2 linked regions of the Homo sapiens genome follow. The protein of the gene in region 1 interacts with the protein of each later gene in a biochemical or structural test. Each region holds a gene or a part of one and is shown on either strand. Other genes may lie near its edges.

The links.
Region 2: the proteins of UBR5 (region 1) and RXRA form a complex in vitro, tested with the Homo sapiens proteins (one study listed by BioGRID).

Annotation. Positions count from the first base shown.
Region 1 is NC_000008.11:102,251,762-102,255,718, forward strand, and holds the end of UBR5 (E3 ubiquitin-protein ligase UBR5), read right to left. Parts: intron 2,754-3,957; coding exon 2,541-2,753; 3' UTR 512-2,540; downstream 1-511. UniProt on the Homo sapiens protein: E3 ubiquitin-protein ligase involved in different protein quality control pathways in the cytoplasm and nucleus. Mainly acts as a ubiquitin chain elongator that extends pre-ubiquitinated substrates.
Region 2 is NC_000009.12:134,322,362-134,329,454, reverse strand, and holds the start of RXRA (retinoic acid receptor RXR-alpha), read right to left. Parts: upstream 3,001-7,093; 5' UTR 2,824-3,000; coding exon 2,796-2,823; intron 1-2,795. UniProt on the Homo sapiens protein: Receptor for retinoic acid that acts as a transcription factor.

The DNA of each region.
Region 1 (3,957 bases):
TATATTTGTAAATAAAAAGGAAATATTCTTTGGGCAGTGTTTCAGAATCACCTGGGATGATCTGCATGAAGATTCCTGGCCTCCACCAAAGACTTACTGAATCAGAAAGGAGGCAAGAGGATGAGGAATGCTTAAGAATCTGCATTAACAAACTTTACAAATGAATCTTACAACATACAGAAGCATGGAAACTACTGCCTCAAGGGATTATCTCAACTTGAGTTTAAACATAGGAATTGCTGACTACCTTTAAAATGTAAAAATAGTATCTTTATGGGAGGGATGTTGTTTGGGGGCAGCTACTAAATAGTGAAATCATTCCTTTAAAATACCCTCTCAAGTCTGCCCCAGTTATCCATTTTACTGGATAGTCTTGGTATCCAGATGATTTAGGGAAAAAAATAGTAGTAGCAAACTCTGAAAACACTCAGTAAAGTTCATTCTTGGTCTTCTCTTCCTAAATTTGTTTTCAATTGTTAGATTTAAACACTAAACAAGACCAAAAGAGAACTTTATTTTACATGTCTTTATTTTACATTTAGAACCGTTTTATGATTTACTTAAAAAAAAAATCTTTTACTATTATTAGAAGTATTTTTTAACCAAAATCTTGATTTAGGAAGACTTAAGACATTGTGCATTATTTTAAATATTTTCATTTCAGTAACTATTAAAAATAAATTCACAATTAGGGTTTCAAATGTCCTAATCATATCTAGTTTGTTCTCATTTAATATTTTATCAATCCCATCATGTGCATACAGAGGTTAAGGTGATGTATAAATTTTATATCTTTCAAACACATTGATGCTAATCAGCTCTTGATCTAATTACTATTTCATTTATTCAGAAATAGCATTTAGACATAAAAACCAATGTCTCACTTTGTAAAATAACCTTTGGCTAATTTACACACATCTAATACAGCGTGTTATATAAGTTTTAAGTAATACAATGAGTCACTACTATCATTCAGTTTTAAATATTTTTAGTGTTAACAGGGCTGAGAATATCATGTGGTTCAGTCTTCTGAAGGAAGTTATATAATAAAAGCATAGTGCCTTTGAACATGAAGACTATCCTCAAGGCCAGAAATCCTACAAAGGAACTGAAAGGAGAGATTCCAGAGAATTGCTCTCCTCATTTTTAATATGTAAAGTGACTGTTTTAAGTCACTTCATTGAAGACTTAAGGAAGAAAACAGTGTTATTATGCCACTGAATAAAGCTACTTAAACCAGAGTAATTTTGGGATATTAATCCTAGGCTACATAATTAATAGGTCATCAAAACAAAAACCTGTCAGTTATTAGGTGTAAGTTAACTTCCTATGCCAAGTAAGGGGTCACACTTCACTTCCCCCATTTGTAAAATGAAAAGGTGGCCAGGCCAGTGCCATTTAGGATTCTCTGCTAACTGTAAAATGTGGACTGATTTTCTTCTGTTTCTTATAGTCCAGGTGTATATAAACTTCCAGTTCTTTAAGTCAAAATTTTTATGCACATAACCATGTCAGTGTATTGCCCTTAGTTTAAAAATGTACAACTACATAAATAAAAACTATTGTTTCTTCAATATTACTTGACATTTCTTCTGTAATTTCTTTATTTAAAAAAGTAAATGTAACAAGATACTTAAAAAAGGCTAGATACAAAAGTAGTTAAGCTGCTCACGAACATTTAAAATTTTCCAAAATGTATCTTCAATAATCATGATCTTATAAAACATTTTACAGTTATCAGAAAGTGCCCAGGCTGAGTTTACATAACTGAAATACCTTAGTACAAATGTCTAGTTAGAACTGAAGTGCAGTAACCTCTTGAGACTGACTGCTCATTGAAATAGGGATACAAAGAAAAAGTTGATTGTGATAAAAGTATTGTGCATTGGCCCCATCATATGTACAAAAAAAGTGCCCTCACTCAAATGAGCAAATTACATGCAAAATATTAGTGATATCATTTAATATCCTAGAGCTCAATGCAGTCAAACCGCAATAAAAGTGGTTTTTATAGGTAAAAGTGATTTCATCTCTTAAGATCTGAATGTCGAGAACTTTTTTACAAGTTCCATATACATGATACACAGTTGCAGCCAACCACAAATTAAACACCATAAAAAAAGTTAAAATGAAAACACAGAACATACTTAATTTTTTATTTTGAAATTCCCTATTCCCTCTATACAAGAACCTTTGCTGAAACAGTTTCCACAAAGGCAGCAGTGAATTTTCAGAACATTTACATTTTTTCCCCCTCAGCAAAAAGATAAATCACAGTGTAAATTATGTTGTTCTGCTGTCATCTTTGGCTGGGGTTAGACCCAGAAGTTGGTGACTAGCAAACCAATATAGCCAAATGTTGCTAGTGCTCCTTAGGCCTTTAAGCTATAAACTCAGCAAGGAATGTCTGCATTTTATCTCTTTAAGGTACCACCAGGGGGGTATGACAGCATTAACTTCCATAAACTTTTATAGACAAATGGAAAAAAATCTACAAAATTTGCTAGTAATATTACACAGCAATACACACTTTTTATACTCTACACAAAACCAAAATTCTTGGTCTTAATGGCGAGTAACAATTTCTGTTTGAGAATCTGTTTAGAGGAATAGAGTGGGACGTAAAGTCGAGAAATGCAAGTATTTGCAGTAGGAAGATGTTGGTCATCTGGTGGTCTTATTGTGATTGAGGGCATAGGCTGGAATCCTTCTTCACTGGCTGGCAGTGATGGGCTTGATGTCCAAAAGTAAACCTGAACAGGAATTTAACAGGTTAATATTTAACTCTTAACTCTGGCAGTATATACACAAAGCCCTATTGTTATGTTAATAACCTAAAAGGAGATATTATTTTGAACTGGATTTTAAATATATTTTCTTGTACTAAAAAGGAAAGGGATCATTCATACCTCAAGACAGGTTTTTGTTTTTGTTTTTTTTCCCCAAAGGAGTAAGTCTAGAGTTAGTAGAGGAAAAAAAGGTGACTTTCTGTCACAGAGCCTCAGTATTTTCATCTGTAACATGAGGCTGTTGGACTAAATGGTTTCTAAGAGCCTTTCTTGCAGCTAATTCCATAAAGTGTCTATTAGTGGAAAAAAGGCTGCCAAACAAAAGATACGGTCTTAGGTTCAAAACTCACACAGGTTATCTTAAAAAGTTATTTTGCATTAAGGAGCAAAATAATGCAAATAATAAAATAATAAAGCAAAAAAAGTATTTACTGCTACATTGTGATACAGAATCATTTTATAATAGTAATTATTGGGGAACATCTATCTATGCATCAAAATTCATGCAATAAGCCATATTAACACTAAGTTTTATCATACCTCTGTAATAAAACTTTGTGCAACACAGTGTAAATGATGCTCAGTAAATGTGAACTTACACTTTTTAACTTAACCAAGGATATGCCTCCCTGAAATAGTTTGCTGAACATGTAACATTCCTCATCAATCCATCCCTTCATACATACGCATCATTCTTCAGTGTCTGTCTCTCTTAAGGAAAAGCTTTTTTTTTAATCTAATCATTTTATAATGCACAACAATGAAGTATATCCAATTTCCTAGAATGACTAGGAAACCTAAACAAACTTAAGATTTCCTGAAGCACAGTTGTATGGGAAAGCTCATCTAGAATTCTATATAAAGGGACAGAAAAAAAAAAAAAAAGTTAAGTATCAGGATCTATAAAATCTGAAAAGAAATAGAAAACAGGTACTCTAGAGATGAAGTTGATCTAAACCACTCATTTCATAGATAAGAAACAAGCTTAATATAAAGTGTTTCTCCAAGGATGAATGTGGTTAACCAGGGTAGATGACCTCACTGCTGGATCTCTAAGAAGTTGGAAGAGAAATACTTTTACTAGTGAATTATAACACTCCAAGAGGGAAATAAACTGTAGTTTACCCAATAACTCTGGAAACCCTATAAGTTGCAGGACTAATTAATT
Region 2 (7,093 bases), on another chromosome or scaffold:
CGGACTGGGCCATTTTTCTCTCCCTGACACCTCCCCAGTCAACAAACAGGGCCCCTCCAGAGTTTACCAAAACAAACACCCTGCCGTCGGGCAGCGCCCGCGCTAAAAGACGCCCTCGTCAGGCCCGAGCGGGACTCCAAGCCCAGCCTCCTGAGAGTCACATGACCCTGTTATTTCGGGAGGCCCCGGAATGTGCTCTATTTTGGGTCCCAAGGGCTCTGATGTTACCAGAAGCCCCTCACACAGGCTGCAAGCTCACCCAGGCCCCCAAGTGCCCCAACTCCAAGAGTGGTCAGCGGGCCTACAGCTTTGCCACCGGGTCTCTCCACAGGCGCATGGGGTCTGGTGTGGTCTGAGACCTTTGGACTCTGTGGACTCCGCCTGAGTCCCACCATTCAGGATAAGGCCAGCGGGGGCCTTCTCCCCGGCAGGCGTGGGAGCGCGGCCAGCCCCGGGCAGCAGGGCCAGGAAGCTGGGGCTGCCTCTGGCGAGTCCCTCGGCCTTGCTTTCCTTCCAGATCTGGACGCTGCACTCATCCCTGCCCTCACTGAGCGGCTCGGTGGACACCGACTGGGATCCTCTCCCTGCCCACCAAGCCCAGCGGTAGTGAATGCTGGGAGGAGGAAGCCCTCTCTACCCCAGACCCCAAAAGCGGCTGGGCAGCTGTAAGGGGTGGCCGAGTCTCCCCAGCAGCTCCAGGTCTGACCGGTCGGCCAGCCGGGCCAAGACAAGCCAGGCCCTCCACCACCACTCACCCCGAGGAGGGATTAGGCTGTGTTGACAAAAGGGCTTAGAAAAGTAGCCGCTTAAATGGACCTTCGACTGCTCTGGACTTCAGAGCTGGTCACAAGCTTAGAAAAAAAATAAAATGTAATCAGAGCCCAGGGCTCTCTGCTCAGCCCTGGGGCGTGGGCTGCCTGGGAGGCCATGGGCCGGTCGGGAGAGCTGCTGCTCGAGAACAGAAGACTCCTAGCTTCCTTGTGGCAGGGGAGTGCCCAGGGAGATCCCTGGGGCAGTGGCTCGGAGGCACGACCTCTCCTCCTCACAGGGACTCCAGCAAGCCACCATGGCGACTGGGCACCCCTTGCTCCCTCGCCCTACATCCACCAACTCCGTGGACTATCCCTGTCCCACCCGGAGCATTAGAAACAGGGACCTGTTCGGTTCTCAGTACTCAGCTGAAGTGCAACCAGCCAGGCCCCTGCCACGTCCAGGGGCCAGACACTGAGCTGAGCATTCTTGTTCCAGAGGAATCGTCTGGGAGAGCCTAGCTCTGTGTGTGTGGATGTGTGTGTGCACATGTGTGAGTGCAAAGCTTTAACAGGGAAAGGCAGCCCCAGCCCACTCCACACTGCACTCGGTCACAGACAGCGCAGCATTCCCTCCTGCCTCACACTCAGCAGTACCACGAGCTGGGGGTGCTAATCCCAAATCCACCACCTTGTATCCTGGGGGCTCAGCCTCTCCCAGCCAGTTTTCTCATCTGCAAAATGGGCATGAGCGCCCACCCCTGGAGGCTGAGCCCTGGAGCTCATTCAAGGCCTCGAGCCCACCACTCCATCATGACAGAGGCAGGGAGTAAGCGTTAGGTCTGACAAACCTGGAACCCACCGCCTGCCCCGGTCACGGGGCAGCACACCTGCCTGTGAGTAGCAGAGGTACTCAGACTCTCACCCTCACATCCAGGAGGGGCTAGGTCCATGCTGGCTCCCCTTGATGCCCCATCTCACTAAACATCCCTGCAGCTACATTGGCTTCTGAGCACCTCCTGGGGTGGCCAAGCTGCACCCCAGGCTGCAGGGAGGGTGGGCAGGAGGGGCTACGGATGGCGGGGGCTTCATTCATAATCAGCTGTTTCGATTTCCATTCAGCACAAATCCTTCACCCGGCCTGACAGCCTGGCTGCCGTCCCACCACCAAATTAATATCCTTCCCGGAGCTAATTTATAAAGTCTCCCCCTTCTCACTAGCTTCCAAACCCTTGGGAGGGCAATGGGTGGGGGCCCCAGCCATGCCCTCTCCCCCTTCTCGGTAGGTCTGGGCCTGGAGTTGGCGGGCAGTCTGGGATAGGAAGCTACCGGGCGGGATGGCAGGAGGAGGAGGGAAACTGACCCTACGCGCCTCTGCGCTGTCCTGCTCACAAATGGAGAGCCAGCCTGGGAGAACACCCGGGGGTGCCAGAGTGAGGGGCCCCATTTCTGGAATGGGGCCTTCCCAGGTCTGACGTTCTGTTCATACAGCCCCGGGGGACCCTGCCCACCCGGGCGTGGGCTGCTTTGGGGATAACAGGGTCCCAGTCTGTTTCCTGGGCGGACACACACCCAAGGGCCAGCGGCCTGCTAGAAGCCGCAGCCCGACGGGCGGGCGGCGCAGAGGCCGCTCGGGGCCCAGCGCGCCGTCCCGGTCCCCAGGCCAGGGAGGCCGGAGCCGCGGAGCGCAGAAGTTGCTCCTCCCGCTCCGGCCGGGTTCCTGTGCGGCGCGGCTGCAGCTGGGCGCCGGGGCGCAGGCGGCCGCCGGTGAGCGGGAGACCCCTCCTCGTCCCGGGCGAACCTGCCACCCGCCCCCCGGCCCCGCCGCCCGCCCGCTGCCCAGCCCCGCCCCGGCCCCGCGAAAAGTTGCCCCGGGTCGACCCTCCCCGGGCCCGGCGCCCGAACTCACGCGAAGGTCGGCGAGGGGTCCGAGCGGGGCCCGGGCCGGCGACCCCCCGCGCGCGCCGCCAACGCGCCCCCGGCCCCCTCCCGCCCGCCGGCCCCCGGCCCCCGGCCCCGTCCCCGCCCGGCCCGGCGAGCACTCACCGAGCGGCAGGAAATGTTTGGTGTCCATGTCTGCGACTAACTCATGCCCGGCCGGCGGCGCAGGCAGCGGGCGGCGGGCGCGGCGGCCCCCGGCGCGGCCGGCCCGGGCCCGGGCGGCGGGGAGCCGGCGGCTGCGGTGGCGGCGGCGGCGCGCGGAGGCCGCGGCGCGGCGAGTTGTTGCAAAAGTCGCCCAACAATGTAAACTACTTGTGTCTGCGCGCCGCCGCCGCGCGCGCCCGGCCCGCGCCCCCGCCGCCGCGCGCCCGCGCCCCGCTCCGACCGCGGCGCTGCGGCGCCGGCGGGGGGGTGGCGGGGGGCCCGCGACGGGCGCTGACTCGGCGCAGCGCCGCCGCCACCGCTCGGCCCGCGCCCCGCCCGCCCAGCCCCGCCCGGAGCGCGCCCCCCTCCGCCGCCGCCGCCCCGCGATCGCCGCCCGCCCGGCCGCCGAGTTGAGAGCGCCGTGCAAACTTGCGAGTTCGCCTCCGCCAGGGGTTCCCGGGAGCCGCGAGGAGGCGGCGTGGGAGGGGGCGGGGCGCAGAGGGAGCGGGGCGGGGGCGGGGGCGGGAGCAGAACTCCCTCCCCGGGCCCGCCACACACTCGCGCACACACACACTTGCGCGCAAGGGCCCGGAGGAGGCGGAGAGCCGGGCCGGGAGCCCAGCGGCCGGGCCATTGTCTGCGCGGCCACACAAAGCGGCCGGGCGGTGGCCGCGAGGGGACCCCGGCCCGGGCCAGGCAAGCGCAGAGCCGGGCGGGATGGCCGCGGCACCCATACCTCGCACCCCGCCGCGGCGGACACGTGGGGAAACTGAGGCCCGGGAGTGGCGATGTGCCCCAACGGCAGAGGACAAGCTCCTCGTCCGGGGAAGGTTTCGTCTTCCGGACGCTACCCCCGGTCCACCCCACACTTTCACGCCCTACCCCCACGGAGAGACCCACGAGCCCACCGGGAACGAGGAGGGGTGCGCGCTTCGCCTCCTCATCGACCCGCACTCCTGGGACCCCTCTTCAAAGGCACCAGGCTGGGCAGGCGCTGCCCGGAGTTGGACACAGACTTTGTGGCCGGTGGCTATTTTTATACCCTGGGTAGTTCTCTGCCTGACTTTTAAATTCACGATTTGTTTGAAAACGAAAGGAAGCACTCCTGCCCCGGGACAGCTCGGGCCGCCTCCGCCGCGCGCCGCCCGCCGCCCGCCGTCTCGGGCGGCTGGAATTCGGATTTGGGTGTGAGCTACCTGCGCGCCGCCAAGCCCAGCCTTCCTGAGCAGGCGCCGAGGCGCCCCGCCGCGCCCTCCCTCCGCACCCCCACCGCGAGCTTGCTGACCACCTAGACCTAAGGGCCCGGGCTGCGAGGCACAGGGACTGACCATTCACGCAGGCTGCGCGTGGTGGCCCGGGTCAGGGGACGCTAATGGGGAGGGAGGTGAGGAGGTGATGACCGCGTGTGGACAGCCATGACACGGCCCAAAGATAACAGCCCGAGACCAGAGAGGTGTCCTGCTGCCTGGGTGCCCCTCAAGTCGGGCCACCCGGAGCTGGGTTCCACGAGGGCTCCGGTGGCCTGTTCCGGTGGGAGGTCTTGGTTCCACTTGGGACAGAAGTGCCCTGGTTGGGCAGCCCACCCCCAGCACAGCCAGAGCCCAAGGCAGCCCTCTCCCCCTCCCCCTCTTCACTGACCCCTGGGCCCCTACCAAAGGCCACCCCGTCCCCCTATTCACACACCCTGTCCAACAGGCAGCCTGCCCCACTCCCTCCGGGATGAGGGCCACTGTTGACACCTGGTCCTCACCCACTGTGGTTACAGCCACAACAGACCCACTTCCCCACTGCACATGGCATGCCGGCCCAACCCACTGCCCTTCTAAAACTGAGTTCCTCCTGCCAGGGAGGGGGGCGGCAAACAAAGGATAGGACTGAGAAAGAGCCCCCGTAAGCACCAACATACACTGCAAAAGTGCCATGTGCCCGCCGCGTTCCAGGCCTGTCTCTGTGACTGCTTGGGCCCCTCCTGACTGTACTCAGGTTGGGGGGTTGGGGGGGAGTCCCAGATAGACAAGGCCTGGGCCAGATTGCAGGTCCACCTCCTACCAACCGTGTGGCCTAGCTGGGTCACTTCCCTCCTTGTATCTCAGTTTTCTCATCTGTAAAGTGGGAACAACCACTCCCTCCTCACTGAGTCACTGAGATGACTAAGTGAGATAATATGGAGAGTCTGCGCTCGGGAGGACGAGCTCGGTGTGACAGTTATTGTGATGATGATGATGATGAAATGACGCTGAATTAGGCAGGCCGTTCGCCTATGCTCAGTGCAGGGAGAGCAAGGCTCTATCCAGCCAAAGGGCTCAGGCAGCTTTTGGGATCACTGGTTCTTGAGTCAGGTTTTGGAGCAGGGAGGTTCCATCAGGCAGTGGCCGCCCAGGCAGCAGGGCCGGCTGAGCAGCGGCCTGCAGAGAGAAGGAGCAGCAGGCCGCGGACGGCAGGTCAGGACACGCCAGGCAATGGTGGGAAGGCTGGGCTGAAGTGTCTGAGGTCACCTCCCAATAGTGGGCGGTGTGGCATGCTGGACTCTCCACCCCACCCCCATCTCACTCCTTGTCCCTGAAAACTCAAGACTCAGGAGCTGTTGGTGCCTGGAGTCGGGGAGGCACATGCAGACAGATTTCCATGTGGGTTCCTCCTGGGAAGGCTGAAGGTTCCAGAAGGGCCCTCTGTTCCTAAGAAACACCGGAAGGCGTCATCCCCTGCTCTAGAGACCACGTGGAGAGCGCACGGAGTCCGGAGTCCTGCAGATCTGGGCTCACATCCAGCCTCTGTGCCCACAGACGGTGAATGGCTCTCAGCCCCGCCCTTCTCTTCCATGGGGCAGGGGCCTGGGTGCTCGGCCGCCGAAAACACACCAGGTCCTTGATGGAAAATGACGATGCCGCTTGTTATTTCTGTGGCCACTACTTTTTATCCTCCCCCTCAGTTTGGAGCTTTTTGGTGCAAATGATTCTACACGAAACCTCCCGGGATAGTGGCTGCCCCATATGAAATGGCCAGGTCTGAGCCAGCCATGGAAAAAAACACCCCAGCCTTCCCACCATGTGCTGCTACAGCCAAAACTATTTTTATAGTAGTATCCATTTATTCACAACCTGCGATCTAAGAAGGTTTTGTTTTTTTGTTTTTTTGTTTGGGTCTTTTTTTTTTTAATTTCCCTGAGGGACGCTTTTTAAGGTACTTTGGCCTATTTCATATGCCTGTCTCGGCTCAGTCTTGTAAACAGTCCCGGGAATTGCTTGTTGAATAATATTTTTAAAGGCTGGTCTCTGTGCTGGCTGAGCATGAGGAAGCTGGCGTCTGGGTGGACTGCTCCCAGAAGTTCCCAGGACACCAACGGGGCTCTAAGCTGCTTCCAGAGGTTCCCTGTGGTCCTGAGCTGGTCACTAGCAGGACCTCACAGGGGTTTGGGGAGCTCAGCCTCCAACAAGGGAGGCCAAGGGCTTGGGTACTGCTGGGCAAGGTGGCCCGATCTGTCCCCAAGCACCTCAGCCTAAGGGGACTCTCTCTCACATCCGTTGTGGCTCCTTTGGGGACAACACCTTTTGTCTGTGGTGACCGATGATGACTCGAGCTGGGAAGTAGAGCCGAAAGCTCAGAGAGGCAAGGGGCCACCCGGCAGGTCCACATGGAACTGGGACTAGGCCCAGGGGTCCCAGCCCGAACCCCCTTTCTCAGTCATAGCTTGTCTCTCCATCAGTCTAGAGGGAAACACTCAAGCCACTTGTCCACACCTGGGCTCCAGTCTGTTCTGCTGAGTGGAGAGGAAGAGAAAGGATAGGAGGGAGGGGAGAGGAGAGGACAGGAGGGGAGGAGGAGGAAGAGAAGAGGACCCCTCTGCTCCTGGGTCTGGCCCTCTGGCAAAATGTTTGCAGGCCTGCAGGGCAGTCACCACTGACAGCGTCTGCCCTGGTAGCAGTCAGCTGGCTGGCCCTGCACACCCCAAACCCAAAGCAGTGCAGGGGAAGAGAAAGGTGAGGTCCTCCGAAGGCCAGCCGCTGCCTCCGTCATCAGCTGGGGTCTTACTTCCAGAACTCTGGGGAGCTGAATGGTGGCGTGAGCCAAAGAGTTCAGGTGAGTGAGGCTTAAGGGGACAGGAGCTGGTTTGTAATGAAGAGCCAGGATTTCAGTGCAGCTCCAGGCAAGAGACAGTGGGTTCCCTCCAGGGGCCACCAAAGAGCCCCACCGAATCCCAGCGCCAGCCGCAAGGGGTCACAGATGCTCAAAGAAGGGCAGGAACAGTTCTGAGAGTCCGG